7 linked regions of the Homo sapiens genome follow. The protein of the gene in region 1 purifies or fractionates together with the protein of each later gene. This does not show direct contact. Each region holds a gene or a part of one and is shown in the gene's direction. Other genes may lie near its edges.

Region 1 (4,264 bases):
GGGCCCATCCTTTGAACAGTATGATGATGTGGGGTTGGAGTCTTTTTTTGTGGAGTCCATGTCTGGGATGGGAAAGAAGGGGTAAGGGAAAGGGGAGAGTGATGCAGAAGTGGGGTGGAAGGGTGGTGGTGATTTTGCCTCAGCTTCCCTGAGGATTGTGCCCTGGAGGCAGTGGGGACGGATGCGGGCGAAAGAAACCTCAGAAAGCTCTTGAAGTGGGGCTGCTTCAAGAATCTTGAAGCTCAAGATGACTGGTGACTGCTCAGTGAATCTTTGTTACCGCTGACATTTCATTCAGATTTTCCCTTATGTTACTGCTATTTGTCACTTTGTCTTCCTTTCTCCATTATAAGGGAAGGTCTGTGGAGTACTGATCTGTCTCAGGCATCTCTGCCCACCCCACAGTGTGCGGTGTCTTGCACACAGTAGGTGCTCAAACACAGTTATTGAACACAGGCTGCATTGACTTATCACCTTCGGTATCCGTGCTGCGCAGTGCAACCATCTTCTCCCAAAGAAGTCAGGATTTTTTGGTCTAAAATAGTCACAGTTAACAAAGATACTTGGGAAATCCTGAAAATATCATAAATTTCAGGAGTAAGCAGTTGGACAAGTTGTGGACTTCTGTTGAGTATCTTCTGCAAGATCCACTATGCAACTTTTGCTGCCTGTTTTTCTTTATTCACTCCATTTTATTAAACTTAGTTTCCTCCAAACCCACTGGAAGCAAGAAAAGCAAACAAACAAAACCTTAGGTTGCTCATCTCCATTGTTGCATAGTAGGTGTTGAATGGATACCTACTGAGCTAGTTCATTTCTGATACTAATTTGATTACTTCTCCTGAACATTCTTTCTTCTTACAGAACTCTCTGTCCTCTACCTCCCAAATCCCACAAAACATCTCGCCTCCACACATAGGCTGATTGCTTGGGAATGGTACAGGAGGCCCTTGGTGATTCTAATTGATGAAAGACTAAAAAATTCCCTTATAGGGGAACATAAATCAATGTCAATCTGAGATTGAGTAATACATCAAATTAGTATCAGCAATGAACTAGTTTCAGCAGGCTCTTTACATACTCTTGCAGGTATAGGTGCTGAGGCTGAAGCTGTAAGCTCAGAGATTTTGACATACTCTTTCCCTCCTTTCCTTCTTTCCTTCATCAGTTACTGAACATTTGTTATGTGCCAGGCATTGGGTTAAGTTCAAAAAAATATACAGTGTCTGATTTCAAATACATTATTCCACTCTAGTGGCAAGAGAAAAGGAAGTAGTGGCCACATGATATGAGGTGTGAGCAGCTGGTAAGAACCTCTCCTGGCCTAGGAGGTAAGACCTCCTCAAGGGGTTTGCTGCCAAACTCCTGAATGCGATCAAGAGTAATTAAGGTAACTGTGCAGCTCTGGATGAATTAACAGGTTCTGCGCTTGACTTTCTCCATTTGTGCAGGTCGGAGATGTCCGCCCAGAGGTTAATTTCTAACAGAACCTCCCAGCAATCGGCATCTAATTCTGATTACACCTGGGAATATGAATATTATGAGATTGGACCAGTTTCCTTTGAAGGACTGAAGGCTCATAAATGTAAGTTTTATACAATTCCTCATTGAAAGCATAATTGTATTTCTCTTAACCTGTGAAATCCCCAAGGATTACTTCTCCTGAGCATTCTTTCTTCTTTACAGAACTCTCTGTCCTCTACCTCCCAAATTCTACAAAACATCTCGCCTCCACACATAGGCTGATTGCTCAGGAATGGTACAGGAGGGCCTTGGTGATTCTAATTGATGAAAGACTAAAAAATTCCCATAGTAGGAGAACATGAATCAATGTCAAGCTGAGATTGAGAATTTTTAAAAAGCATTTGCTTTTTTAGCTCCTCCAAACTGTGAATGTTTGAACTATCAAAAATATGTATAAAAATAGGATCTGGAACTGTTATTTGAAGAACCTTCTTTTGTAACACAGCAGCATCTTTTCATCCCAGTTGGTTTCCTGGAGCTGTGGAGAGCAGTGTATCCATGTGTGCTCATAATGATGGACCAGAATAGCCTGCGATCATTTCTAACACTGTGTTCTAGGCATGAATTGTGTTTCATGCTATTGGAGTAATTAAGGGTCCAGCACAGAGCAAGGAAATGTAATTCTGTGAGACGTTGCTACTCAACTCCAGTCATAACTGAATGCTGACTGGCCAGCATGGAACATCCTTGCTTCATTAGGTAGAGTTAACAGTTAACATGGTAGGCAGGAACTGCTGCCCAGTCTCAGATCCTGTCTTGGTAACCCCGTAAATATCCCTGAAATGTTCACTTTTGTCAGAGTGAATTATCCACAGCACTGTAAAATTTTTATGCTCTTAACTGGTCCAGGTTAGTGGGACACATTAGGAAATATAAGAGGGCTTAGAATCAGAGAAACAAATGTAGCAAAGAAAGTGTTTTTGTTCCTTTAATTATTTCCTGGCTGCTTCTATCCTGACCTGTCTTGGCATTCATGATCTCTTGCACCAACTTGGTGCTCTTTTGCAAGAAGGGCTTTCTATTTTTGTTCCTTTAGCAAAAATCATTAATTAAACCATATGTCCTTTACCCCTTAAGTGAGTAGTAATAATTAAATACTTTCATTCATTCCTTTATTGACATCTGCTCAGTATTTCTTTGTGGAAAAAAAGCACATGGCATTTATCAAGGTATGCTGTCATTGATTATCTGAGAGAAGGCTGTTGGGTGTGAAATCACCTTCTTTAATTTACTTAAATTCTTTAATATGTTGTTTTTCTAGGATAACCTTTATGTAAGGACAATTGCTTGTTCTGAATTATAGTGGATATCAAAATGACTGGGAAAATTGCCACATATTTTCTTGAAATGTGGGCTTTTACTGCTTGGTGACATCAACTTTACTTTTGTGTCAGCTTGCTCCTATCTCTTTTCCTTAGTTTAAGAAGCACAGAAGACAGGCCTGCTGCTGTAATTTTGGTTGGTACATTTCCAGAGACAATTGAATAAAATATTTTTTGAGGATATTACATTCTAGAAATAATTATAGCTGGAAAACTTCATGAGAAACATAGGCAGAGGTGTGACTCATTCCTTACTTACTTACTTTACCTACTATACCATTAATAACAATTGCTTTTGTTAATTTTAATATTCACGTCAAGATAAAACAAAAATGCCTGAGCACTTACTGTTCTGATATAAGAGAGCTGATAAGTAGCAGCCCTTAGCTTCAGGAACCTGAAAATATATGCGACACATTGAGAACAAAAAATAAACAAACACAAAACCCCAGATATACAGGAAAGTGAAAAGATCAAGTCAACTGTTGAAATGTGTGCTCTGGTACAGTCTCTTTCATTTAAAAATGCTGTGACTCTGACCTTCAAGTATGACTCCTTGTTTTGCTGGGCAAAATTCAAAGCTAATTAGATGCAGATTCAAAAGAACAGAAGCAGGACATTTCAAGGGGAAGCACTCATTGCGGACAGGAATGACCATAACAGTTATCTTTATTTGCCTTACCTGTAATGGATCACACTTGGCAACAATAGCTCCATCTTTAGACTGAGTTCCTCTGCTGAAATTAAGATTCCTACCTTCAAAGGGTGTTTCATCTGAGAAGCAACCTCAGATGGTGCTTGAGAATTCTTTTGCCATCAGTTTTGAATCCAATATTAAACCTTATCATGTATCAGAAGTGGACATGTATCTGATACAGATTTGGCACCAACAAAGTGGAAACCTATTTATTTATTCATTCATTCAATATATATTTATTGAGCACCTGTTATGTGCAGTACTATTTTAAGCACTGGAGAGACAACAGTGAACTGAAAAGACAGAAATATTTCCTTGTATAGAGCTTGCATTCTAGTGGGAGAGACAGACAATAAATAGTTAAATAGATAATGTCAGATGGCAATATAAAAGGATAAATAGAGTGGGGGTAAAGGGATGTGGAGTGTGGAGGCGACAGTATAGAATTGCCATCGAAAGCCTTACTGAGAAGGAGAGATTTGATAAAAGACCTGAAGGAAGTGAGAGATTGAGCTATAATATATCTGGGGGAAGAACATCCCAGAAAAGGATCCTTGGCGGGAGTGAACTGGATCATGCAAGGAGGCCAGCGTGGTACCAGGGGAGTGATAAGAGGCAGAACAGCAGGAAACGAAGTCAAAGAGGCTGTGGGGACAAGGACATGGGGGGGCCTTAGAGGTCATGCTAAGGACTTTGTTTGGCCTTTTACTCTGAGAAGTCA
Region 2 (4,264 bases), on another chromosome or scaffold:
ATGAACAAGTGTTGAAAGTTATTTCATATTCATCATTTTAGTCAAAAAGTCTATAAGGTTTGCACTTTGTGCTATGCATAATATTAATGCATAGTGTAGCCAATCTTTAATATATAAATCATCATTTTTCTTTCTCTGTAGATTTATCTTGTACCTAAAACTTTGGCTCGAAAGCGAATCTGGAATAAAAAGTACCCCATTTGTATCGAGCTTGGTCAGCAAGATGACTTTATGTCTAAAGCTCAGACTGATAAGGAGACTTCAGAAGAGAAGCCGCCAGCTGAGGGAAGTGAGGACCCTAAGAAGCCACCCCGCCCTCAGGAGGGAACAAGATCTAGCCAGCGAGATCAGATACTCTATCTCTTTGGGAGAACTGGCCGAGAAAAAGAGGAATGGTTTAGGAGATTTATTCTGGCATCTAAGCTAAAGTCGGAAATCAAGAAGTCATCGGGTGTCTCTGGAGGTAAACCAGGTAATGATGTTTGTGCTAAATGCTTATGCATTTTTAAAGGGCCACTAGGGAGAATAGAGAAAGAATGCCAGGTAGGAAGGAAGGAAGGAAGGAAGCCCACCCTGAACTGATGGTTGTCTGCCACCTAATGTGCATTCTCATGACTCATTTACCATCTAGGCTGATCACTGCAGCCGTCTGTCCCAAATCATTTAACCAATGATGGATCCATTTGCAGATGATGTTTATTAGCCTTTGCTGGTTATGTTTTATTTGTATATAATGTGACTCCCCTGAGAGAAGCAGCAACAGAAAAACCCTGGTTCTGAGATGGCAGGTGAGTCAGGGAGATCCTTCAGGCTGGTACTTTCGAGCACCTGACCCTCAATATGTCTTCCGAGCCTGAGCTTGCCATAGAATGCAGAATCCTTGCACTTCCTGACCATTCAGGTCAGATCGTGGTCATTCGGATTGATAACCATGCAGCACCTCTTTGCTCAGCTTTGGCTGGGCTTGGAGCTGCAAGAGACACAAAACCAGTAAAAAGCAGTAGCTCCCCTGTCCTTCAGGTGTTGTGCCTGTTATGCAAAACTGGCACGTATGAGTCAGGTGTTCACAAATTGCCATGCTAAAATGAGTGTGGTGTAACAAATAATTGGGACAAGACCAGTGTGGGTGTTATTAGGGAAAGCTTTCTTACATGGATCTGAAACAAAGACTAGGAGGGAGCCACTCTGGGGCTTTCTCTAACAAGGCATTTGTGTTGATCCGGGAGTTATGCTGGTCACATGAGTGTCACACATTGCTTCAGAGTGCTTTGGTTCCTTCCCCTGGAACATAATCTGAGCCTTTGCCCTAACTCCTTTGCTAACCTTCCATTCTGTCAGCTTCAACACCAGATTCCATCCTAATCCCAGCACTGAGATCTAAGAAGTCCCTTTTAAGAATCAAGACGAATGGGGAGATTACTAGATATATTTATTTCCTAGGGCTGCTGGGACAAAATACCACAAGCTGGGTGATTTACAACAGAAATGTATTCTCTCACAGTACTGGAGGCTGGAAGTCTGAAATCAAGGTGTTAGCAGGGCCATGCTCCTTGTGAGACTCTGCATAGAATCCTTCCTTGCGTGTTTGCAGCTTCTGGTGGTGACCATCAATACTTGGCCCGCAGCCGCATCACTCCACACTGGCCTATCATCACATGGCATTGTCTGTCAGTGGCTCTGTGTCTTCTTGGAAGGACACCAGTCATATGGGATTAGGAGCCCACCCTGTTTCTAGTATGACTTTATTTTAATGAATGGCATCTACAATGACTCTGTTTCCAAATAAGGTCACATTCTGAGATACTGGGGTTAGGACTTTAACATATTTTTTGGAGGACACAATTCAACCCATAACACTGAGTAAAAGAAAATTCAAGTGGGTAAGAACTCCTCAGCACCAGGCACTGCCTAGCTCTCCTGGTAGGTCTAAACCTGTGCTGCTTCTTACGGTAGCCACCAGCCCCATGTGGCTTTTGAACACTTGAAGTGTGGCCAGTCCAGATGGAGGTGTGCTCTAAGTATAAGATGCACATTGGATTTCAAAGTCTTAGTCCAATAAAAGAATGTAAAATATCTCATTAATAACTTCTTATATTGGTTACATGTTGAAATAATATTTTAGATATATTGGGTTAAAAATATATTCAAATTAATTGTATTCTTTTTACCTTTCTTTTTCTTTCTTTCTTTTTTTTTTTTTTTTTTTTTTTTTTGAGATGGAGTCTAGCTTTGTTGCCCAGGCTGGAGTGCAGTGACACGATCTTGGCTCACTGCAACCTCCGCCTCCCAGGTTCAAGCAGTTCTCCTGCCTCAGCCTCCTGAGTAGCTGGGATTACAGGCACCCGCCATCACGCCCAGCTAATTTTTTATATCTTTAGTAGGGACAGGATTTCACTATGTTGGTCAGGCTGATCTTAAACTCCCAGCCTCAAGTGAACCGCCCACCTTGGCCTCCCAAAGTGCTGGGATTACAGGCGTGAGCCACTGTGCCCGACCTCTTTTTACATTTTTAAATGTGACTACTAGAAAATTTAAAATTGTTTATGTGGCTCAGATTGTATTCCTACTGGAAATATAAAGGTCTACTGGTCTAGGCACTGAAGCTCAGAATCAGGTAACCCACGGGGGTATATGGGGCCACCAGGAAACACCACCTTAGGTACTTAGGGGCCCCCCAGAGCACCTTCAAAAGAGGCATGTTATTCATGGACTTAAATAAAGCATTTGATTATTTTTAACGAGTTCAATTTTTGGAAATCCTGCCAAAAGTTCCACTCAGCACACAACAAACATAATGGTAAGAGTCAGAGATGTGGGAAAACCTTCAGTGCACTCACTGGTACTAAAGCAAGGCTCACACACCACTAATGTCTTCGTACATCTGTAAGTCTGGGTTGCCTTTGAAAGCTATGAATTGAGATATTTATGGTAAGTTTAAGCCACCAAAAGTGTGATTAAACTAGTAGCAAGGTAAATTGGTGAGCACTGTGCTGTTCTTCAAAACCATCTCTGAATCAGTGACTACATAGGTGGTCAGCCGTGAAGGTAGGACTGGTCTGATTCTCTGAGGCCAGGTACATCTATCAGTACCAAGAAGTTAGAAGTCTTCCTGCTCGACGACCTGCCCTGTCCTCTCCCTCAGGGATGCTGTCACCAAAATCATAGATTTCTCTAGCAACACGGATTGTGCTTCTCAGACTTGAATGTTTGACGGGATCTTAAGATGCAGGTTCTGACTCGAGGTCATGGGTGGGGCTGAGATTCTGCATTTCCAGCCAGCAGTGCCCAGGCTGCAGGTCAGGAAAGGCCTCCCGGAGGAATAAGAATCTGGAGACAGCAGGAAAGCCACATGGTCATTTGGCAGAATTCCAGTATGGTCTCTGCACAGGAAGGTCCTTGACTTTATCAGGGGCTATTGTCCATGAGACCCACAGTGCAGTGACGACTCCTGTGCTTTGTCCCACTCAGGGGAAGGGTGAGGTGATGTGAAGAGGCTGTTCTGTGGGCAATGAGCACCAGCCAGGCCTCGTAGGGGGTTCCTTTCCTCCTCTACATGGAGTGTGGCTCAGTCACAATGGGATCAGTTTGGTTTGAAGTGTTGGTATCATGCTGCCCTGTTTATTTCATCTTTTTTTCTCTTTTTTACTATTAACTAAACTGTAATCTTTATTTGGATTTCACTGGTTTTTCTACTAATGTCCTTTTTCTCTTCCAGGATCCAATCCAGGATATTAAATGTAATATTAGTTTACATCTATTTTTTAATGTTTTTGATGTAGCTTTTATCCTAGCAATTAAAAAAATGCTAAACATGAAAACGGTATAAGGATAATAAAAGTTACAAAAATGTATTTTTATAGTTATGCAGTGTAAAATATTAAAGTGCTGGAAATTATCTGGCTAAAATTTAAATTAAGAAATGGCTTGCGTGACCCTTTGTGAGGCTCTGGGGAATTATGGTTCTGATGGTTGGAGCCTCTTAAGAAGAAAATGGTTTGATTTGATTTTTTGATTTCTTTCTTTCTTTCTTTCTTTTTTTTTTTTTTGAGACAGAGTCTTGCTCTGTTGCCCAAGCTGGAGTGCAGTGGTATGATCTTGGCTCACTGCAACCTCCGCCTCCCAGGTTGAAGCGATTATCCTGCCTTCAGCCTCCCCCAGTAGCTAGGACTACAGGTACAGGCCACCATGCCAGGCTAATGTTTTGTATTTTTAGTAGAGATGGGGTTTCATCATGTCGGCCAGGCTGGTCTCGAACTCCTGACCT
Region 3 (4,264 bases), on another chromosome or scaffold:
AAGGGCCGTGTGTGCACCCAGGCCTGACAGCGCTCGCTGTCAGGCCTGGGGTGTTCTGCTGCCCCACCCAGACGATGACGTTTAGAGCTGAATGGTCCCTCTCACTGTTTCTTGGTAGTTTGACTTCACTTTTGTTGAAGTTTATCGCGTCAAGAAATTCCAGTTTACGTCGAAGCACATGGAGGATGAGGACAGCGACCTCAAGGAGGGGGGGAAGAAGCGCTTTGGGCACATTTGCAGCAGCCACCCCTCCTGCTGCTGCACCGTCTCCAACAGCTCCTGGAACTGCGACGGGGAGGTCCTGCACAGCCCTGCCATCGAGGTCAGGTGCGTGCAGGGGTCCTCCAGCCACCAGCGCCATCCCCTTGAGCCCTGAGGTGTCTGTCACAAGCTGCCCCACCCAGGGTGGGGGGTTCCCTGGGGCTTTATAAACACAAAACGTAAGAATGTTTTATAAATGCACTTTTCTCTCCCTATGTCAAATATCGAATGAGATGCCGTTACCCACATTCTGGAAAGATGCCAGGGTGCCGAGTCCTCAGCATTTTGTTTTGCAGATAATTTTCATGGGTGTTTGAAGCTCCTCCATTTCATTCTTTTCCTCTTCCACACCCTGTGCTCCAGGCTGGCATTGGGCTCTTTGCCCTGGCATTCTCTCTCTCTTCTCCTAAATAATTCAAAAGGTGGGAGGCTGAGGCGGGCAGATCACTTGAGATCAGGAGTTCAAGACCAGCCTCGCCAACATGGTGAAACCCCGTCTCTACTAAAAATACAAAAAAAATTAGTCGGGTGTGATGGTGCATGCCTGTAATCCCAGCTACCCCGGAGGCTGAGGCAGGAGAGTCGCTTGAACCCAGGAGGCAGAAGTTGCAGTGAGCCGAGACCATGCCACTGCACTCCAGCCTTGGTGACAGAGCGAGACTCCATCTCAAAAAAATTTCAAAAGGCAAACAAAGGAAACCGCCTTTACAGGCAGTCCTTTGTCCACTGAATCCACCAGGGAACCGCTGGCCTCAAGGGCCACAGTCAATCACCAAGTGCAGGTGCTCCGTGCAGGGAGGGGCAGGAGGCAGCAGGGCTGGGAAGGGCACCCCGAGGATGGGAAGGAGAGGAGGAGCCCCAGAGGGACGCCCCGTGCTGGAGGCCACGCAGCCTAGGGGACGCGGGGAGGCAGGTGTGGCCACACACGGATGTTCGGTCTCCCTGGGGCAGGTGCCACACCCCTCCTCTGGCTGGCTGGGCGGAGGGTGGGAAGTGGTGTCCTCCCCACACCCACTGGGGCCCATTGTATTTGGAAGTCTGTGATGTATCACATAACCAGATGGAATCTGAGTGCAAAGAAAATTGTTTCTCCATGGAAAGACCCAGTAACAAGCAAGTTGATTTTTTCAAAAGGCCACTGAATTAGGTGTGGGCGTGCAAATTACATGAGACTGGGGAACGGTAGAGCTCAGGTGGATTCTGAACTCTTGGCAGATGTTGGTAAGAGCTCGGTCTACTTCAAGGAAGCCCAGCTTGACGCTCGTTAACAGAGTGTGGCTGGCGTGAGAGCGATAGCAGGCTGGTCAGCAGGCCCACGCCTGTCTGCAACGAAAGCTGGGTGTCAGATGGCCCTTGGGTGCCTTAAGTCACAGCATGTAAGAGGATGCACGCATCTCTGTGGACAGCGCCCCACTTTCAGTGACTCCTCAGCCAGCCAGCTGCGGCTCTAAGAAAGCTTCTCCCATTCGCATCCGAACAAGCCTAAGGGAGGAGGTCTCTGCCCCTCCCCAGGCCCAGGGCCACGCGCCCCCTTTCTTTCTGTCAGGGCGGTGGTGATGGCAAGAGGCTGTCGAAAGGTCCCAGGAACACCGGCCACCCCAGGCAGCCGTGCACAGGGACTTTCCTCTGTCAACTCATTTGACAAGTTTGGGAAGTGGGATTATTTTTAATATTGGTGTATGTATTTATTAAAGAAATAGAATAATTTGAAAATCAGGACAGGCATTCTTGAAATACGTCCTGTCTATCTTGATAAATATGGCTATGCCTTGAGCAGCACGTCGCTTTTAAAAATATAATTTGTGTGTGTGTGAGCTCAGCTCCATGGAAACAGCCTGTCACTTATTTATTTCTATTTTTTTATTTTTTGAGACAGAGTTTTGCTCTTGTTGCCCAGGCTGGAGTGCAATGGCGAGGTCTCGGCTCACTGCAACCTCTGCCTCCCAGGTTCAAGCAATTCTCCTGCCTCAGCCTCCCAAGTAGCAGGCGCCCGCCACCACACCTGGCTAATTTTTATATTTTTAGTAGAGACGGGGTTTCACCATGTTGGCCAGGCTGGTCTCAAACTCCTGACCTCAGGTGATCCGCCCGCCTGGACCTCCCAAAGTGCTGGGATTATAGGCGTGAGTCACTGTGCCCTGCCCCAGCCTGTCACTTAATGAAGGGGTTTAGGTTACTGAAATACGTCTGAGGAGGCTGTGATATCATTAATAAATGAGATAAATAGAGCTGTCCTGTGTGGGAAGATGGCACTCACCCACGGACTCACTGTGGCCACCGAGCCCCTGGGCAGGGGACCTCCAGGGACCCCCAACTTGTTCCTCAAGCCCGAAGGCTCTTGCTGGCGTTGGGCCACCTGTCCTTCTCATCTGAGCATTCCTCACACATCTCTTACACGCATTGAGTCGCCCCGCACAGACTCCTCGCAGGCCTTGCGCGCTCAGTACTGCTGAGAAAATGGAGGTGGGTGGGTGGGTGGAGTGGGCAGACACTGGAGCGGACGCTCTGCTTTCCATGGGGGTGCTGGAGTTCGAGTCAGGTCTACCGATGCCCAGATTTCCCACCTGGCCATTGGCAACCCCTTTACAAACTCGGCATCCCGGGAGTCTAAGTGAATTATTCCACGCCCAGGGCCCGTCATTGTGGGCTGGACTCCTACAGCCCACGGTGACGTCTGACCGTTCCATGGGGGATGGACCCCCACTTCAGCCCCTGTCCAAGAGCGGTGCTCAGGGCCAGCTTTGAGTGAGGGACACGTGGGGTTTACTGCAGCCCCTGTCCAGGAGTGGGGCTCAGGCCAGCTTTGAGTGAGGGACACGTGGGGTTTACACGTGGCCGCTTGTCTCTGCAGAGTCCACTGCCAGCTGGTTCGACTCTTTGCACGAGGAATTGAAGAGAATCCGAAGCCAGACTCACACAGCTGAGAAGCCGGCGTCCTGCTCACAAACTGGGAAAGTGTGAAAACTATTTAAGATAATTATTACAGACCAATTATGTTGATATATACATTTAAATGTAGAAATTTATTTTTGATAGTTAAATCTTGATTTTAGAAGAAAACCCTTTTGTCAACAATTTTGTGTACATATTTGGCATTTTCAGTTCTGTACGCATCTGCGGGTTGCAGCCCACGCCGCTTACTCTCAGCGGATGCAGCTGCTCACTTGGGGGCACTGGCCTCTTAGGTTTTAACGATGTCAACAGTGTAGTTTAGAAAATGGCCCGTTAGTGGCTCTATTGCAATAATGTTAGGGACATTATATGATTTCCACGCAGGTCACACCATCTGGGCCTGAGGTAGCAGTGGGTCACTTTGATCCACTTTGCAGGACTTATTCTGTAACGGTTTGTGGCCAAGTTTTGGGAAGTGGTTGATTCTCTTTGCCTTCATTTCACCTTCCTCTTCGTTTACGGTTAGGACATCGCTGCTTGATCCTTACAATACTGTGCAACTGCAATGCAACGTGGCCCTGCTTCAGGTGATCCGCGGGAGGGGCCTCCACGCCAGCGCCGGGAAGGCTGCTGGGGCCTCCACACCTGCCTCATCACGGCGGCGAGGCTACGACAATCCGGCTGGGAGCATGACCTTGGCGTCTGTTCTGGGAGCACGGATGATAAGCTCTGGAAGCTGGCAGTGTGTAAAGCACTGGCAAGTTTGTTACTGTTAAAATGTCAAATACCAATGCTTTATATCGACGCGAAGTGCTTAACACAGCCGGGCTTGGGGGCAGTCAGGAGGAAGCTGGCCATCCGTGGAGGAGGGGCCGGTCCTGGACTCCCGCAGGACTCCTCTGAGGCAGGGCCTGAAGTCTGTACACGTGGTCCAGATTTGTCCTTGTCTTTTCTTCACACTGAGTTCTCTATATTTATTGAACATCTTGTCCTTTTAAGCCAGAGTAGTGTAAACTGCGTCTCGGATGTCTGTCTTTTGCCTCGAAGCCACGATGGATCGCTGGTTTCCTCTGCAGCGCGAGGGCTCCGGCGACCAGAGGATTCTTCCCGG
Region 4 (4,264 bases), on another chromosome or scaffold:
TGCTCTTGTTGCCTAGGCTGGAGTGCAGTGGCGCCATCTCGGCTCACCGCAACCTCCGCCTCCCAGGTTCAAGTAATTCTCCTGCCGCAGCCTCCCGAGTAGCCGGGATTACAGGCATGCACCTCCACGCCTGGCTAATTTTTGTATTTTTAGTAGAGACGGGGTTTCTCCATGTTGGTCAGGCTGGTCTCGAACTCCTGACCTCAGGTGGTCCGCCTGCCTCGGTCTCCCAAAGTGTTGGGATTACAGGCATGAGCCACCATGCCCGGCCACCCTGCTTGTTTCTACCAAGGATGGCCTGTGCTTCCGCTTGATCCCAGGCCTCTTTGTGCACTGGATCCCATCTCCTCTTGCCCAGCCACAGACATTATTTGTTTTTGTTTTTTTTTTTTCCCTCAGCCACTGACATCAGTTTTTGCTCTCCACTTGATCATTCTCATCAGGAATAAAGGCATAAACATGCTTGCATTTTTCATCTTAAAAATACAAACTTTGGGCTGGGTGCGGTGGCTCACGCCTGTAATCCCAGGACTTTGGGAGGCCATGGTGAGTGGATCACCTGAGGTTAGGAGTTCAAGACCAGCCAGACCAATATGGAGAAACCCCATCTCTACTAAAAATACAAAAAAAAAAAAAAATTACCCAGGCATGGTGGCGCATCCTGTAATCCCAGCTACTTGGGAGGCTGAGGCAGGAGAATCACTTGAATCCGGGAGGCAGAGGTTGTGGTGAACCGAGATCTCGCCACTGCACTCCAGCCTGGGCAACAAGAGCGAAACTCCATCTCAAAAAAGAAAACAAAAACAAACTTTGGGCACAGTGGCTCACACCTATAATCTCAGCACTTTTGGAAGCTGAGGTATATGGATCACCCAAGCCCAGGAGTTTGAGACCAGCCTGGGCAACATGGCAAAACCCCATCTCTACAAAAAAATACAAAAATTAGCCATTCATGGGCCAGGCGCGGTGGCTCACACCTGTAATCCCAGCACTTTGGGTGGCCGAGGCGGGTGAATCATCTGAGGTCAGGAGTTCAAGACCAGCCTGGCCAAAATGATGAAACCCCATCTCTACTAAAAATACAAGAAATTAGCCAGGCATGGTGGCAGGTGCCTGTAATCCCAGCTACTCGGGAGTCTGAGACAGGAGAATTGCTTGAACCTGGGAGGCAGAGGTTGCCGTGAGTCGAGATCGCGCCATTGCACTCCAGTCTGGGCTAGAAGATTACAACTCCGTCTCAAAAAAAGAAAAAAAAAATAGGTGTGGTGGCATGCACCTGTAGCCCTAGCTATTCAGGAGTCTGAGGTGGGAGGATCGTTTGAGCACAGGAAGTTGAGCCTGCAGTGAGCAGAGATCATCGGGAACCTGTCTCAAAAAAACTTCTGTCCAGTCTTTTCCACACCAATTTCTATGCTTCATGACTTTGCTCCCTCTTACACAAAAACTCTTTGAAAAAGTTGTTTCTTGTTTTTGTTTTTGTTTTTTGTTTTTTTTTTGAGATGGAGTCTTGTTCTGTCACCCAGGCTGGAATGCAGTGGCATAATCTCGGCTCACTGCAACCTCTGCTTCCCAGGTTCCAGCAATTCTCCTGCCTCAGCCTCCCGAGTAGCTGGGAATACAGGTGCACACCACCACGCCCTGCTAATTTTTGTACTTTTAGTAGAGATGGGGTTTTGCCTTGTTGGCCAGGCTGGTCTTGAACTCTTGACCTAAGGTGATCCACCCACCTTGGCCTCCCAAAGTGCTGGGATTACAGACGTGAGCTGCCACACCAGCCTGTTTCTGGTTTTTTTATACCTGCCATTTCCAGTTCCTCTCCTCTAATTGTTAAACCTGCTCCAATCTGGCTTTTGCCTCACAACTGCAAATAAAGTGGTTTTATCAAGGTCACTAGTGACTTTTTTTTTTCCTTTTTTTGAGACAGAGTCTCGCTCTGTCGCCAGGCTGGAGTGCAGTGGCATGATCTCAGCTCACTGCAACCTCCGACTCCCTGGTTCAAGCAATTTTCCTGCCTCAGCCTCCCGAGTAGCTGGGATTACAGGCACACGCTACCAGGCCCAGCTAATTTTTTTTTTGTATTTTTAGTAGAGACGGGGTTTCACCATGTTGGCCAGGATGGTCTCCATCTCCTGACCTCGTGATCCACCTGCCTCGGCCTCCCAAAGTGCTGGGATTACAGGCGTGAGCCACCATGCCCAGCTGGTCACTAGTGACTTTTACACTTCAGTGGTTAGTTCTCAGTACTTATCTTTCTTTTCTTTTCTTTTTTTTTTTTTTGTTTGAGACAGAGTCTCGCTTTGTCTCCCAGGCTGGAGTGCGGTGGCGCGATATCAGCTCACTGCAACCCAGGCCTCCTGGGTTCAAGTGATTCTTGTGCCTCAGCCTCCCAAGTAGCTGGGACTACAGGCACACACCCAGCTAATTTTGGGGGACTTTTTTTTTTTTTTTTTTTTTAGAAACAGGGTTTCACCATGTTGACCAGGCTGGTCTGGAACTCTGGCCTCAAGTGATCTGGCCACTTCAGCCTCCCAGAGTGCTGAGATTACAGGAGTAAGTCACCGCACCCAGCCTTGTCTCATGACTTTTAGACACCATTTTTATGCTGATGACTCAAATTTATATCTCTGTGGGCGCTGTGGCTCACGCCTGTAATCCCAGCACTTTGGGTGGCCGAGGCGGATGGATCACGAGGTCAAGAGATCGAGACCATCCTGGCCAACATGGTGAAACCCCATCTCTACTAAAAATACAAAAATTAGCTAGGTGTGGTGGCACGTGCCTGTAGTCCCAGCTACTTGGGAGGCTGAGGCAGGAGAATCACTTGAACCCAGGAGGCGGAGGTTGCAGTGAGCTGAGATTGCACTACTGCACCCCAGCCTGGTGACAGAGCAAGACTCCGTCTCAAAAAAAAAAAATTATATCTCCAACTCAGACTTTTCCTGAACTCCAGACTAGTTTATCCAACATTTCTATGTGGATGCTAATAGGTGCCTCAAAGTCATCATGTACAAAACTGAGCTCCTGGTCTTCCCTGTACCTCCTCTACTCTCAGCATTTTCCAGTTCAGTTGGTAACAATAGCATCCTTGTAATTATTCAGGATTATAGCCCAGGAGTCCTCTTAAATTCCTCTTTTTCTCCCACGGTTTAGATTCCATCTGTTGAGCAATTAGGCTGGCTTTCAACATTATCCCAAATCCATCCCTTCACACCATCTCCATTGTGGCCATACTACTTCAGGCCACCTTCATCGCTGTCCTGGATGACAGTGAGGGCCTCCTTACTTGTTTCCCTTCTTATAGTCTGTACATACATAACAATGATAGGATTCTGTAAATATGTTATTCCTATGCCCAATCCTCCACGGCCCCCCAGGTCACTGTGAATTGGCTCCAGCATTCTCAGATAACATGACCTTCCTTCTGTTCCTCAGACATACCAGGTACATATGTCTGGATACTTTGGGGAAGTTATACCAAAAAAAAAAAAAACCATTGATACTCAATTGACATTATCTTACATTTATTATTTTTAGAAAAATAGAAATCTTTCTTATTGAAAACTTTTCCCAACTAGAATTAGGACTCTTTTTATTGACCTCTTATTTTGTAATCCTCAGATATTTTAGAGTTTTATTTATACAAAGCCTATTGCTTAATTCACATATTTGTTGCTTTTTTTTTTTTTTTTTTTTTTTTTTTTTGAGACAGAGTCTTACTCTGTCACCCAGGCTGGAGTGCAGTGGTGCAATCTCGGCTCACTACAACTTCCGCCTCCCAGGTTCAAGTCATTTTCCTGCCTCAGCCTCCTGAGTAGCTGGGATTACAGGCATCTGCCACCACGCCCAGCTAAGTTTTGTATTTTTAGTAGAGATGGGGGCTCTCACCATGTTGGCCAGGCTGGTCTCGAACTCCTGGCCTCAGGTGATCTGCCTGCCTTGGCCTCCCAAAGTGCTGGGATTACAGGCGTGAGCCACCGTGCCCGGCTTTTATTGCTATTTTGAATGGGATCCATTTCTTGTATTGATTGATTGATTGAGATAGAGTTGTGCTCTGTCTCCCAGGCTGGTGTGCAGTGGCACGATCTCGGCTCACTGCAAACTCCACCTCCTGGGTTCAAGCGATTCTCCTGCCTCAGCCTCCTGAGTAGCTGAGATTACAGGCATGTACCACCACGCCTGGCTAATTTTTGTATTTTTAGTAGAGACAGGGTTTCACCATGTTGGTCAGGCTGGTCTCAAACTCCTGACCTCATGATCTGCCCGC
Region 5 (4,264 bases), on another chromosome or scaffold:
GTACTGGCTGGCACATAGTAGGTGCTCAAGAAACATTGGGAAATGAAGGAAAGATCTCCCAGCAGCTAGGGCACTGGCTGATGCTTAGTAGGACTCAACAACTGTTAAGTGAAGGGAATATCACCCAGCAGCTAGGGTACCTAGCACACAGTAGATACCAAATAAATATACACAGACTGAAGAAAAGACTCGAAAGTGATCCATTGCCAACCTGAACAGAGAACTCTAGTCTGTCTGATTCTAAAATGAGCCCAGGAGCTGAGACACCCCCGAAGGCCAGGGTGGGGTTTGTTCCCTGCCCCCACTGGGGGAAGAGAAGGCAGGCGGGCAGTGGGACTGAGGTGCCTCTGTTTCCCTGCCCACCTGCCTGCCCACCTGCCCACCCGGAAGGATCTTCCCTGACCTCAGCAGCAACGACATGCTCCTCTTCATCGTGAAGGGCATCAACTTGCCCACACCCCCAGGTGAGGGGGCTGTAGGCAAGGGTCAGGGTCATGGGGACCCCCTCTCTGCCCAGCTCTGACCGTTGTTTGCCCACAGGACTGTCCCCTGGCGATCTGGATGTCTTTGTTCGGTTTGACTTCCCCTATCCCAACGTGGTACGTGGGGAGCTGAGGAGGGGAGGGCTGCAGCCTCAGTGGGCCAAAGCCAGGTCCCAGGCCCCCTAGATTTCCTGCCTCCTCTCTGGTCATAGGAAGAAGCTCAGAAAGACAAGACCAGTGTGATCAAGAACACAGACTCCCCTGGTGAGCCTCGGCTGGAAGCACCCTACCCCTACTCCCTTGCAGCAGAAGGGACATAAGACAATGGCCTGACCCCACCCAACTTCCTCTCCCTCCTTCCTCCTGCAGAGTTCAAGGAGCAGTTCAAACTCTGCATCAACCGCAGCCACCGTGGCTTCCGAAGGGCCATCCAGACCAAGGGCATCAAGTTCGAAGTGGTTCACAAGGGGTGAGCTAGAGAGAGCCATGGCCGCTGGGTGGGCTCCAGGGGAGGGGAGCTCCTCTGAACCAACCATCCTGTCCCCACTATACACACATGCACACAGGGGGCTGTTCAAGACTGACCGGGTGCTGGGGACAGCCCAGCTGAAGCTGGATGCACTGGAGATAGCATGTGAGGTCCGGGAGATCCTTGAGGTGAGAGGTGGACATTCATCCGCGTGCTCCGGTATGGCCATGCTACTCGTTAACATTATTAAAACACTTCCTGCCTTGAGCCCTCTATGAGCCTGTCTGTTGACCCAGCCCCTCCCCTCAGAGCCTCAGACCTCCCTACTGCCCAGCCCTAAATACTTGCAGTACCCCACTCCATTATGATCAACTGGTATCTCAGCCATACCATGGGCTCATATTTTAGAAACCACTCTTGGCCAGGCATGGTGGCTCATGCCTGTAATCCCAGCACTTTGGGAGGCTGAGGCGGGCAGATCACGAGGTCAGGAGATCGAGACCATCCTGGCTAACATGGTGAAACCCTGTTTCTACTAAAATACAAAAAAATTAGCCAGGCATGGTGGCGGGCGCCTGTAGTCCCAGCTACTCGGGAGGCTGAGGCAGGAGAATGGCGTAAGTAAACCCAGGAGGCGGAGCTTGCAGTGAGCCCAGATTGCACCACTGCACTCCAGCCTGGACAACAGAGCGAGACTCTATCTCAGAAAAAAAAAAAACCAAAAAAAAAAACCAGTCTTGTTCTCCCTTGTCCTGGCCCTGGGCCTCTAGTCACTTCCTGCTTCCCACCAACAGTTTCTCCTTACCCCCACCCAGGTCCTGGATGGTCGCCGGCCCACAGGGGGGCGACTGGAGGTAATGGTCCGGATTCGGGAGCCACTGACAGCCCAGCAGTTGGAGACGACGACAGAGAGGTGGCTGGTCATTGACCCTGTGCCGGCAGCTGTGCCCACAGTGAGACCCCCCACCCCCACCCATCAGCAACCCCAGGGAGGGAAGCTTGGTTCAGGGGCCCAGGACTCACAGGACTGGTTCTCTCCTCTGAAGCAGGTTGCTGGGCCCAAAGGGAAGGCCCCTCCTGTGCCTGCCCCTGCAAGGGAGTCAGGGAACAGGTAGGTATCTGGGCCAGGGCATGCTGGAGAAAACACCCAATTCCCCTCTCAGCCCCACCTGGACAGTTTCCCACCAGGCACAAATTGGACCACGTCCCTCTCCTGCTGCAAAACCTTTCTTGGCACCCCTTTTCCCAGAGGATCCAGTTTAAACTCCTTGGTTTGGTCTTTAAAACCTTTTGTGATCTGACCATTGTCAACATATCCAGGCTTCTCTCTCCCTACTCCCTCCTGTGGTTCATGTCCATGAATAGTTTTCACTGGCCTCTGGACTTCTGTGGGTTCCAGTGCCCTGAACACCCCTACCTAGGGTAGGGGTGTTCCTTGTTCCTCTGCCCACCTCTGATTCCTTCTTTGGATCCCAACTTGGCTGTTACCTCCTCCAGGAAGCCCTCCCTGACCACTAGGCATCATAGTTTCCTGGGTGTGCAGCCATCATCCCCGCTAGGTTTTGGGATCAGTAACACCGGGTGGTTCTCGGCTGTCTCCCACCATACCCCCAGTGCCCAGTGTGTCTTTTTTTTTTTTTTTTTTTTTTGAGACAGAGTCTAGCTCTGTCGCCCAGGCTAGAGTGCAATGGCGCGATCTCAGCTCACAGCAACCTCCGCCTCTGGGGTTCAAGCGATTCTCCTGCCTCAGCCTCCTGAGTAGCTGGGATTACAGGCATGCGCCACCACACCCAGCTAATTTTTCTATTTTTAGTAGAGATGGGGTTTCTCCATGTTGGTCAGGCTGGTCTCGAACTCCCGACCTCAGGTGATCTGCCTGCCTCGGCCTCCCAAAGTGCTGGGATTACAGGCATGAGCTACCATGCTCGGCTTTTTTTTTTTTTTGAGACAGAATCTTGCTCTGTCACCCAGGTTGGAGTGCAGTGGTGTGATCTCGGCTCATTGCAACCTCCAGCTCCCAGGTTCAAGCAATTCTTCTGCCTCAGCCTCCCAAGTAGCTGGGACTACAGGAGCACACCACCATGCCCAGCTAATTTTTTTTCTATTTTTAGTAGAGACGGGGTTTCACCATATTGGCCAGGCTGGTCTCGAACTCCTGACCTCATGATCCACTCACCTCCGCCTCCCAAAGTGCAGGGATTACAGGCGTGAGCCACTGTGCCCAGCCCAGTGTGTCTTTTGAATTAACAGGGTTGGGCTGGGGGAATCTCTGCAGTCCCTTATCCTTCCTCCACCCCTTAGATCAGCCCGGCCCCTGCATAGCCTCAGTGTGCTGGCGTTTGACCAAGAGCGTCTGGAGCGGAAGGTGGGTATCCATCCTGCCGGGCTACATGGGGCAGGACTGGGGAGTCTGCAGGCCCAGGCAGGATCCTCACAGGACCCTCTGTATCCTCTAGATCCTGGCCCTCAGGCAGGCGCGGCGGCCGGTGCCCCCAGAAGTGGCCCAGCAGTACCAGGACATCATGCAACGCAGCCAGTGGCAGAGGGCACAGCTGGAGCAGGGGGGTGTGGGCATCCGACGGGGTAGGGGTTTGGAGATGGGCATCTGGTGGGGGAGGAGCTCCAGGATAGGCATGGGGGGGGAGGTGCTCAGGGATGCATATCTGGTGGGGGAGGGGCTCGGGGATGGGCATCTGGAGAGGGAGGGGCTCGGGGATGGGCACCTGGAGGGGGAGGGGCTCGGGGATGGGCACCTGGAGGGGGAGGGGCTCGGGGATGGGCATCTGGAGAGGGAGGGGCTCGGGGATGGGCACCTGGAGGGGGAGGGGCTCGGGGATGGGCACCTGGAGGGGGAGGGGCTCGGGGATGGGCACCTGGAGGGGGAGGGGCTCGGGGATGGGCACCTGGCGGGGGACGGGCTTGGGGATGGGCACAGTCCAGGAGGGTTGTGGGCAGTGAGGCCCCACCCTAAGCCTCCATTCCCCCGCCATCCATTCTCAGAATACGCAGCCCAGCTGGAGCGGCAGCTGCAGTTCTACACGGAGGCTGCCCGGCGCCTGGGCAACGATGGCAGCAGGGTGAGCTGGTCGCGGGCCGGGTGGGCACTGGGCAGCGGGCAGGGTGGGGCCTGCAGGGACTACCTGCTGAATGCCCATCCCCCACAGGATGCTGCAAAGGAGGCGCTCTATAGGCGGAATCTGGTAGAGAGTGAGGTAAGCAGCTTAGGAGATGGGGTGGTTGGGGGATCACTGTGGTCGTAGCCCACCTCCATGACCCCAGTGGCCTCCTCTCCCCCAGCTGCAGCGGCTCCGCA
Region 6 (4,264 bases), on another chromosome or scaffold:
GGGGTAGAGGAGATTGTTCTTTGAAGGAGGAAATGTGACACCCTTGATATATACCAGGAGCACTTGAGCCTCCTATCTCACCTAGCTCAGTCCAAATGGAAAGGAGAACTTTCAGTTGAAGGAGCAGGAAGTCCAGGTTGGAGAAGGAGTGGTATATGTGGTATGCTATTTATTTTGGTGTAACCACATTGCTTGCTGAATTACAGTAGATGCTGAAATGGCACATTGAAGTATGAAGGTAGGGTGGGTGGCTCCAAGCTAGTACTTGAGAGCTCTGGTCTGCCCCTCTGTGATTTTCTTGGCTGTTTGTCTTCTGTGTGTTGGAGTCATCCTAAGGCCAGCAGCAAGATCACATCTAGACATGCACTGGCCAGAGGATGGAATGGATCTCTCTCTCTCTTTCTGTCTGTGTCTCTGGAAAAGCAAATACATCTTTTGCATAAGCCTACCAACATATTTTTCTCTTCGTATCTTATTGACCAGAATTAGGTCACATGAACGTCCTAACTAGTTATCATAAGGGAAGTAAGGTTATCATGGTTGGTTTCTACTAATCAGGAGATACCTTCTGCAATTGGTGTTGGGATCACATTTTTCTGAGTTAGATGGAAGAGGGAGGATATTTTAAAAAAATTGTGGGAAGGAAGAATTTGGGGGATATGGATGTTAGAGAGATGATAAATAGTGATCGCTGTGTCTACCTGTTTTGAAGCGATTCTCGTGCTTCAGCGTCCCAAGTAGCTGGGATTACAGGTGCATGCCACTGCACCCAGCTAATTTTTGTATTTTTAGTATACATGGGCTTTCTCCATGCTGGCCAGGCTGGTCTCGAACTCCTGGCCTCAAGTGATCTGCCTGCCTTGGCCTCCCAAAGTGCTGGGATTATAGGCTTGAGTCACCGTGGCTGGCAAGTTACTTTTTGAGACGGAGTTTTACTCTTGTTTCCCAGGCTGGAGTGCCATGGCATGATCTCGGTTCATTGCAACCCCTGCCTCTTGGGTTCAAGTGATTCTCCTGCCTCAGCATCCTGAGTAGCTGGGATTACAGGCAGTCGCCACCTTTCCTGGCTAATTGTTGTATGTTTAGTAGAGACGGGGTTTTGCCATGTTGGCCAGGCTGGTCTTGAACTCCTGACCTCAGGTGATCTGCCTGCCTCGGTCTCCCAAAGTGCTGGATTACAGGCATGAGCCACTGTGCCCGGCTGGGTCTGAATATTTTAGGAGCTAAAAACACTACTTTATTTTTTCATTGGCTAACTTTGAATCAATAAAATAGGTGGTGAAGTTGAAAGATTATAATTTTTTTCTATGAAACTCATGAAGCCATTTAATTTTACATTAAAATTTTTTCCTATAAACTTGTTTAAATTTTTTTTTCTGCATTGTTGCTTTCCTTCCTCACCATGAAGTTGCCCATACCTTTGATTTCATTGATTACTTTGCTTATCATATCTAGGGGAGAATAAGTGCATTGAGGAAATGGGAGTTTCTTGGTCAGAAGGATTTATTTTGAATCCTGGAATTCCAGTGAGATTGGAGGAAAGGATGGTTTTTACATATTTTGAGAGCAGCAGAGTTGGTAAGGGGTTGGGGAGGAAGGGAAGGACCATAGGATTTTAGACTTAAAATGAATCATAGGAAGATTGAAATGCTCAAGCCACACACCTGATTAGTAGAACTCTTATATCCTAATTACTAGTGGAGTGCTCTTTCTGAGTAAGAATTAGGAGGCCATAATAATCTTGTCTACTTTACAGTTTTGCTCAGGACTGTGGGCTACCAATGTAAATCAGTCAGCTAATCACCTTTAGTACAGATACCTGTGTTCTTAGGCTTTGGAAAAATTTAACCAGAAGTTTTCTTTTTTTTCCAGTAAAATAAGTAAACAGACAAAATTTTTCAGCTTGCCTCAAGCAGTCAACAACAATGACAACATCACACAGAAAGACAGGCAGACACACACACATGGAATAATCTTAAACCTAGCCTGCTTAAATGAAAATGCAAAAGCAGACTGTTTGGGACAATTCATTATTTTATTTTCAAGAAAATGATCTTAAGCATTTCTTTACCATCAATATATGTAAATGAAAGGAATATATATGTGCATATATACTATACATGTATACATAGATACATATATGTATGGGTTGTAAGTATATGGAGTAAATCCATCCATCTTCTGGAAGAATATTTATGTTAATGTCAGTTGTTTATAAATGGTGAGATTTAGGATGATTTTTATTTTTATACTTCATTTACTTCTCTATATTGTTTGGGTTTTCAGCTGTCACTGTGCATTATTTCTACCATCAGAAAAAACAGTAATTTTTTTTTTTTTTTTGAGGGGGGTAGAATCTTGGGGTGGGATGTGTTTTCTACCAGTTTAGATTTTAATATATAACTGCTTTCCTTGTATATTACCATGAATAAAGTGTGCCTCAAATGTATTGATACTTTGCAGATTTCTTTATGTTTAAAATTGGATGTATTAAAATTACTTATCTTAAAATTTTAAATTGAAATTGGCCATATAATATCTTTTGGTACAAATATACATTATAAAATTAGTGGACTTCTGAATATTTTGAAATTATTGTGTTATTTATTTTTTTAGTTTGTTTGGTTTGACTTCAGGTGGTATACTAGGCAGTGTATTAGACTGTGATTTATTAGAGTTAAAATTATATTCAGAATTTCCTTTAGTAAAAAGGGAAGTGAAAATGTTTTTTTTCTTTACACCCACTGTGTGTCATGTTTATTTTCTATTTCTGTGAAATACTTATTTTATATTCTAGCAATGAATACTTTCAAGTGGCAGGCAAATATATTAGGTAATCAGGACAGAAGAGAGAAAATTTATGGTATTCTATAAGTCTTAGGGTGTGCAAATTTATGACTACAGGACCTTTTAATAAAATTCTAATTTGGAGTACAAAAATAGTCTAGTATTGTTTTGGAGATGAAACTAGTAGGTGTCAGTTTTAGATGACCTTGAAAAAAAGTGTTTATAGATGCATATTTTTTACAAAACATTATTTTCTTTTCTACATTTATTTTAGGGAATCTGACAACAGTCTGACTCTCCCTACTCCAAAAATGTAAATCTTTAAATCTTAAAGATGTGGAATCTTGTGATGCCAGTTTTTATTTTAAAAAAAGGATCTTTACTGAGTACTTTTTCTGTCATACGAGTATCAGGATATATTGTTGCTGATGTGTCTTTATATAATTGAGATTCTGCAAATGTTTGTAGTTAATAAAGTATCAAAATATAATCAGCTCCTTAAGATAATTGTTTTGAGTATTTTCTGATATCTATTGAAAGTCGATAACTAGAATGCATATTGTGAGTTTGCTTATTATTGTATGCTTTGCTGTTTACCTTAATACCTACTAATGAAGGTGGTTTTTTTAAGACTGAAAAAGAAATCCTGAGCATTTGGGAATGAGAATATCCAATAAGCTAAAATTAATTTTACTATACACACTTGTTTAAAAATTTCCAGTTGAAAATTAGTAATTTTTCTTCTGTGACAGAGTAAATGAAAGAAGAAAAATGGACAATTTTAAAGATAGTTCATGCAGTCCTTGCTATGGGCTGGGAATGCTAACATTTAACTAAATAGATGAGAGGAGGGAAGGATTTGTGGAGAAAGTTTTTACTAGTGGTTCTTGGCCCGAGTTCATATTACAGTTTTCTTGGGAGCTTAAAAAAAAAAGACAGATGTTGGGATTCTACCCATGCTAATTTATATTCCATAAATAATCAGTAGGGCCTGGAAAGGGCTAGGGCATTGATATATTTTAGGATTTCTACAGACGATTCCAGTGTCCTGCAGGGTTGAAAATAACTAATTTCTCCTTCTTTTTACACTCTCAGCCCTTTAAAAAAATGGCTTTCTTTTATTTTCCAACTGTCTTTTTAAAATTTGAGGTGGAGGTATGAAGATGACACAGAAGAAAATGCAAAGAAAATATTAGCAAGAGAATCAAGTTAAAGTAGTGGCTTCTGCTCATAGCTTCATACAGTTCCTCAGATTCGTTCCAGGACCCCTCATGGCTATCAAAATCCAAGGATGGGCTGGGTGCTGTGGCTCACCCCAGCACTTAGGGAGGCAGAGGCAGGCGGATCACGAGGTCAGGAGATTGAGACCGTCTGGCTAACACGGTGAAATCCTGTCTCTACTAAAAATACAAAAAAATTAGCGGGGCGTGGTGGCACACGCCTGTCGTCCCAGCTACTTGGGAGACTGAGGCAGGAG
Region 7 (4,264 bases), on another chromosome or scaffold:
GTGGAATGAATAACTAAGCTGTAATATGTCCTAAATTATGATATTATGAAACATAGTCATTAAAAGTGAATTTTTTTTTTTTTTGAGACGGAGTCTTGCTCTGTCGCCCAGGCTGGAGTGCAGTGGTGCAATCTCAGCTCACTGCAAGGTCCACTTCCTGGGTTCAACCAATTCTCCTGCCTCGGCCTCCTGAGTAGCCAGGATTACAGGCGCGTGCCACCATACCTGGCTGGTTTTTTGTATTTTTAGTGGAGATGGGGTTTCACCATGTTGGTCAGGCTAGTCTCAAACTCCTGACCTCAGGTGATCTGCCGACCTCCGCCTCCCAAAGTGCTGGGATTACAGGCATGAGCCACCGTGCCCAGCCTAAAAGTGAATTTTTTTTTTTTTTTTTTTTTTTGAGACAGAGTCTTGCTCTGTCACTCAGGCTGGAGTGCAGTGGCGTGATCTTGGCTCACTGCCACCTCTGCCTCCCGGGTTCAAGTGATTCTTCTGCATCAGCCTCCCGAGTAGCTGGGACTACAGGCGTGTGCCATCACACACCTGGCTAATTTTTGTGTTTTTAGTAGAGACAAAGTTTCACGATATTGGCCAGGATGGTCTTGAACTCCTGACCTCGTGATCCCCCCACCTCGGCCTCCCAAAGTGCAGGGATGGGCGTGAGCCACTGCGCCCGGCCTAAAAGTGAAATTTTTAAGAAATAATTTTACTTAATGTGGGAACTTTTTCATAATACAATAATTTTTACCCCAAAAAAAGCTGCAAAAGTGTTTTTACTTGGAATTTTCAGCAATTGGGGCATTTTATTTGTTTTTTTAGAGTCAGGGTCTTGCTATGTTGCCTAGGCTGGTCTCGAACTCCTGGGCTTACGAGCTCTTCCTGCCTCAGCCTCCTGAGTAGCTGGGACTACAGGCGAGCAATTTTTCTTTTGAAATCTTAGCAAAAAAAAAAAAAACTGGAAGGAAATATGCCAAAATATTGTCATGTATCCCTTAGAATGATGTAGCTATTTTTCTTTATAATTTTTTTCATAATTTTTTACATATATCAGTTACCTTACAATGAGAATAACAAGTCATAAAGTGAAAAAAGAATTAATTAATTAAAGGAGGCACCAATGGCTCATTTCAGCTTAAGCCCAAAAGACAAATACCTACAGTCTCATAAAGTTTCTCTAAAGGAGATATGTAGGGCCGGGCGCGGTGGGTCACATCTGTAATCCCAGCACTTTGGGAGGCCGAGCCAGGTGGATCACAAGGTCAGGAGTTTGAGACCAGCCTGGCCAACATGGCCCTGTCTCTACTAAAAATACAAAAATTAACCAGGCATGGTGGCAGGCGCCTGTAATCCCAGCTACTCGGGAGGCTGAGGCAGGAGAATCACTTGAACCCAGGAGGCAGAGGTTGCAGTGAGCCAAGATTGTGCTGTTGCACTCCAGCCTGGGCAACAAGAGCAAGACTCCGTCTCAAAATAAAAAAAAGAGATATGTAAATGTCAAGTTTTTGGCATGTTTTTTAAAAAAGCAATTAAATGTGATTGTGAGGAGAGAAAGGCAGTTATATAATTATGAGTAATAAGCTCTTGTGCTACAGACATTGATTGAGTTCAGCCCTAGCCATGTGCCAGGACTGAGCCAAGTTATGACTTAACATATTTACTTCATTTAATCCTCACAACAACCCCTTGAGTTTGGACTTTTTTTTTTTTTTTTTTTTTTTTTTTTTGAGATAGTCTCACTCTATCGCCCAGGCTGGAGTGCAGTGGTGCAATCTCAGTTTACTGCAACCTCCACCTCCTGAGTTCAAGTGATTCTTGTGCCTCAGCCACCTGAGTAGCTGGAATTACAGATACGCACCACCACACCCAGCTAATTTTTCTATTTTTAGTAGAAATGGGGGTTTGCTACATTGGCCGGGCTGTCTCGAACTCCTGGCTTCAAGTGATCTGCTTGCGTTGGCCTCCCAGAGTGCTGGGATTATAGGCATGAGTCACTGCACCTGGCCAGGCAATTTTTTATCTCCATTTTATAGCTGAAGAAACTAAGGCTCAGTGATTTGCCCAAGATAGCACAGCCAGAGTGGGTGCTCAATAGTTATTGCAGTGGCTGGGCTCAGAGGCTCAGGCTCACATCTATAATCCCAGCACTTTGGGAAGCCAAGGCAGACAGATTGCTGAGCCCAGGAGTTCAAGACCAGCCTGGGCAACGTGGTGAAACCCCATCTCTACTAAAAATCAAAAAAATTAGCCAGGCATGGTGGCGCAAGCATGTAGTGTTAGCTGCTTCAGAGGCAGAGGTGGGAGGATCAGCTTGAGCCCGAGGAGGTCAAGGCTACAGTGAACCTTGATCACACCACTGCACTCCAGCCTGGGCCGCAGAGCAAGACCCTGTCTCAAAAAAAAAAAAGTAATTAAAAAAAACATGTTAAAATAATTTTAAAAATAGCACAAGAATGAATAGTTCTCCCCTGAATGTGAGATGTTAATCAATTGTTTGATATGCCTCCCCCTCTCTAATTCTTCTAGTGTTTGCAGTGAAGCTCTTGCCTATTTCATCACTGTGAATTCTGAGAGCCATCGGGAGGCCTGGACAAGTCTCTTGTTGTTACTTCTAACTAAAACCCTCAAAATAAATGATGAAAAGGTATGAACAAGTAAACTCTGACCAATTTTCACTAGGACATAAAGTTTGGGTTGGCTTTTTACTCAAGAGTTTGCAGTAACTATTTTCTCAGTTCTCCCAAGGATGGTTACGTGACTAGCACCATTCTAGATGCATTGGAGAGAAGTTAATCCGTTATGGACAATGGGTGCCACAGGATATTAGGGCTTTTTGCCTGGAAGAACAGTAGTTGAGAACGGCTGAAGTGTAGACCTCATGTGTTGCTGTTAGGAATGGTATGGTGAGTTTCAGTGCAGGAAGAGAGGGTTAAGATTGTGAAGCACCAGTTTTGACCTAGGAACCTGCTTTACAAAATAAAAGAGCTGTTGACTTTTGGCAGCAAGACTATCCAAATTTAATTAAAGTTAAATATAACTGAAAGAAGCTTTAATTTGCAAGGTTTCTTCAACTTCTTTTTTTTTTTTTGAGACAGAGTCTTGGTCTGTCACACAGGCTGGAATGCAGTGACGTAATCTAGCTCACTGCAATTTCTGCCTCCCAGGCTCAAGCGATCCTCCCACCTCAGCCTCCTGAGTAGCTGGGACCACAGACACGCGCCACTATGCCCAGCTAAGTTTTTGTATTTTTGGTAGAGACAGGGTTTCACCGTGTTGCCTAGGCTGGTCTCGATCTCCTGAGCTCAAGCGATCCACCTGCCTCGGCCTCCCCAAGTGCTGGGATTATAGGCGTGAATCACTGCGCTCGGCCCCAACTTTCTAATAGCAAGAAAAGCACCAATATTGTAATAAGTTCCAGGGTGAGATTAACACTTCTGAAAAACTGGTGCCCAAAAAAAAAAAAAATTGTCTAATTTTATCTGTTTCTCTCCCACCTCAAGTTCAAAGCACATGCTTCAATGTACTACCCCTACTTGTGTGAAATTATGCAGTTTGACCTGATCCCTGAGCTCCGAGCAGTTCTGCGGAAGTTCTTCCTACGGATAGGTGTTGTGTATAAGATATGGATACCAGAAGAGCCATCACAGGTACCAGCAGCACTGTCACCAGTGTGGTAGCCCTGGCTGCCCAGGCCAGTGCTGCAGCTCTGCAGAATGTTCAGCATGCCATTTCTGACTGGCACATCTCGTGAAGTTTCATAGAAACAAGGAGTTGGCATCTTGGATCTCAGAATGGCCTGGAAACGGATGGCCTCTACGCTGTTCCATCACAGTCTCCAACTAAGGCTTATGGTATTTCATTAAACTGTTGCATACCCAGTTAGCACAGTAGGTGGGGAGTCTGCTTCATTTCTATCATTCCATTTTTCTGATTAAACTGTCAAATCTGTCATTGCATATGCCATCGTTTTCTAGCAAAATCCCATGATTGGCTATAAACGTTTTGTAAGAAGTCACTCTCCTTGAAAATACTGAACATAGCTGTATAGGTTTGTGATTATTAGAGAATATGTTAATAAAACTTCTTGTAACGGCTAACTGCCACCTAAAATATGCTGGGTTTTCTGTTGTTTGAGTGTGTTAGAGAAATTTGAATGTTTTTGTCAGTTACGAGTCAGCCGTAATTAGATTAGTTTAAGGACAGGTCAGGATTAGAGAAGAGTTGTTTTTGTGTTTTGTTAATGTCTGAGTGATTTTTAAAGTATTTT

What was found.
Region 2: the proteins of MRAP2 (region 1) and TEX2 purify together in Homo sapiens (co-immunoprecipitation; 3 studies listed by BioGRID and IntAct, with this or other methods). This does not show direct contact.
Region 3: the proteins of MRAP2 (region 1) and CERK purify together in Homo sapiens (affinity purification with mass spectrometry; 2 studies listed by BioGRID and IntAct, with this or other methods). This does not show direct contact.
Region 4: the proteins of MRAP2 (region 1) and SLC25A20 purify together in Homo sapiens (affinity purification with mass spectrometry; 2 studies listed by BioGRID and IntAct, with this or other methods). This does not show direct contact.
Region 5: the proteins of MRAP2 (region 1) and CC2D1A purify together in Homo sapiens (affinity purification with mass spectrometry; 2 studies listed by BioGRID and IntAct, with this or other methods). This does not show direct contact.
Region 6: the proteins of MRAP2 (region 1) and CSNK1G3 purify together in Homo sapiens (affinity purification with mass spectrometry; 2 studies listed by BioGRID and IntAct, with this or other methods). This does not show direct contact.
Region 7: the proteins of MRAP2 (region 1) and ARFGEF2 purify together in Homo sapiens (affinity purification with mass spectrometry; 2 studies listed by BioGRID and IntAct, with this or other methods). This does not show direct contact.

What each region holds. Positions count from the first base shown.
Region 1 is NC_000006.12:84,053,861-84,058,124, forward strand, and holds part of MRAP2 (melanocortin-2 receptor accessory protein 2), read left to right. Parts: intron 1-1,451; 5' UTR 1,452-1,458; coding exon 1,459-1,585; intron 1,586-4,264. UniProt on the Homo sapiens protein: Modulator of melanocortin receptor 4 (MC4R), a receptor involved in energy homeostasis. Plays a central role in the control of energy homeostasis and body weight regulation by increasing ligand-sensitivity of MC4R and MC4R-mediated generation of cAMP.
Region 2 is NC_000017.11:64,189,767-64,194,030, reverse strand, and holds part of TEX2 (testis-expressed protein 2), read left to right. Parts: intron 1-141; coding exon 142-472; intron 473-4,264. UniProt on the Homo sapiens protein: During endoplasmic reticulum (ER) stress or when cellular ceramide levels increase, may induce contacts between the ER and medial-Golgi complex to facilitate non-vesicular transport of ceramides from the ER to the Golgi complex where they are converted to complex sphingolipids, preventing toxic ceramide accumulation.
Region 3 is NC_000022.11:46,686,055-46,690,318, reverse strand, and holds part of CERK (ceramide kinase), read left to right. Parts: intron 1-118; coding exon 119-327; intron 328-3,112; coding exon 3,113-3,185; 3' UTR 3,186-4,264. UniProt on the Homo sapiens protein: Catalyzes specifically the phosphorylation of ceramide to form ceramide 1-phosphate.
Region 4 is NC_000003.12:48,863,786-48,868,049, reverse strand, and holds part of SLC25A20 (mitochondrial carnitine/acylcarnitine carrier protein), read left to right. Parts: intron 1-4,264. UniProt on the Homo sapiens protein: Mediates the electroneutral exchange of acylcarnitines (O-acyl-(R)-carnitine or L-acylcarnitine) of different acyl chain lengths (ranging from O-acetyl-(R)-carnitine to long-chain O-acyl-(R)-carnitines) with free carnitine ((R)-carnitine or L-carnitine) across the mitochondrial inner membrane, via a ping-pong mechanism.
Region 5 is NC_000019.10:13,926,127-13,930,390, forward strand, and holds part of CC2D1A (coiled-coil and C2 domain-containing protein 1A), read left to right. Parts: intron 1-390; coding exon 391-464; intron 465-540; coding exon 541-599; intron 600-694; coding exon 695-746; intron 747-851; coding exon 852-951; intron 952-1,048; coding exon 1,049-1,139; intron 1,140-1,766; coding exon 1,767-1,904; intron 1,905-1,997; coding exon 1,998-2,062; intron 2,063-3,252; coding exon 3,253-3,316; intron 3,317-3,407; coding exon 3,408-3,534; intron 3,535-3,951; coding exon 3,952-4,028; intron 4,029-4,115; coding exon 4,116-4,163; intron 4,164-4,248; coding exon 4,249-4,264. UniProt on the Homo sapiens protein: Transcription factor that binds specifically to the DRE (dual repressor element) and represses HTR1A gene transcription in neuronal cells. The combination of calcium and ATP specifically inactivates the binding with FRE.
Region 6 is NC_000005.10:123,518,150-123,522,413, forward strand, and holds part of CSNK1G3 (casein kinase I isoform gamma-3), read left to right. Parts: intron 1-4,264. UniProt on the Homo sapiens protein: Serine/threonine-protein kinase. Casein kinases are operationally defined by their preferential utilization of acidic proteins such as caseins as substrates. It can phosphorylate a large number of proteins. Participates in Wnt signaling.
Region 7 is NC_000020.11:49,029,526-49,033,789, forward strand, and holds part of ARFGEF2 (brefeldin A-inhibited guanine nucleotide-exchange protein 2), read left to right. Parts: intron 1-2,523; coding exon 2,524-2,641; intron 2,642-3,497; coding exon 3,498-3,674; 3' UTR 3,675-4,264. UniProt on the Homo sapiens protein: Promotes guanine-nucleotide exchange on ARF1 and ARF3 and to a lower extent on ARF5 and ARF6. Promotes the activation of ARF1/ARF5/ARF6 through replacement of GDP with GTP. Involved in the regulation of Golgi vesicular transport.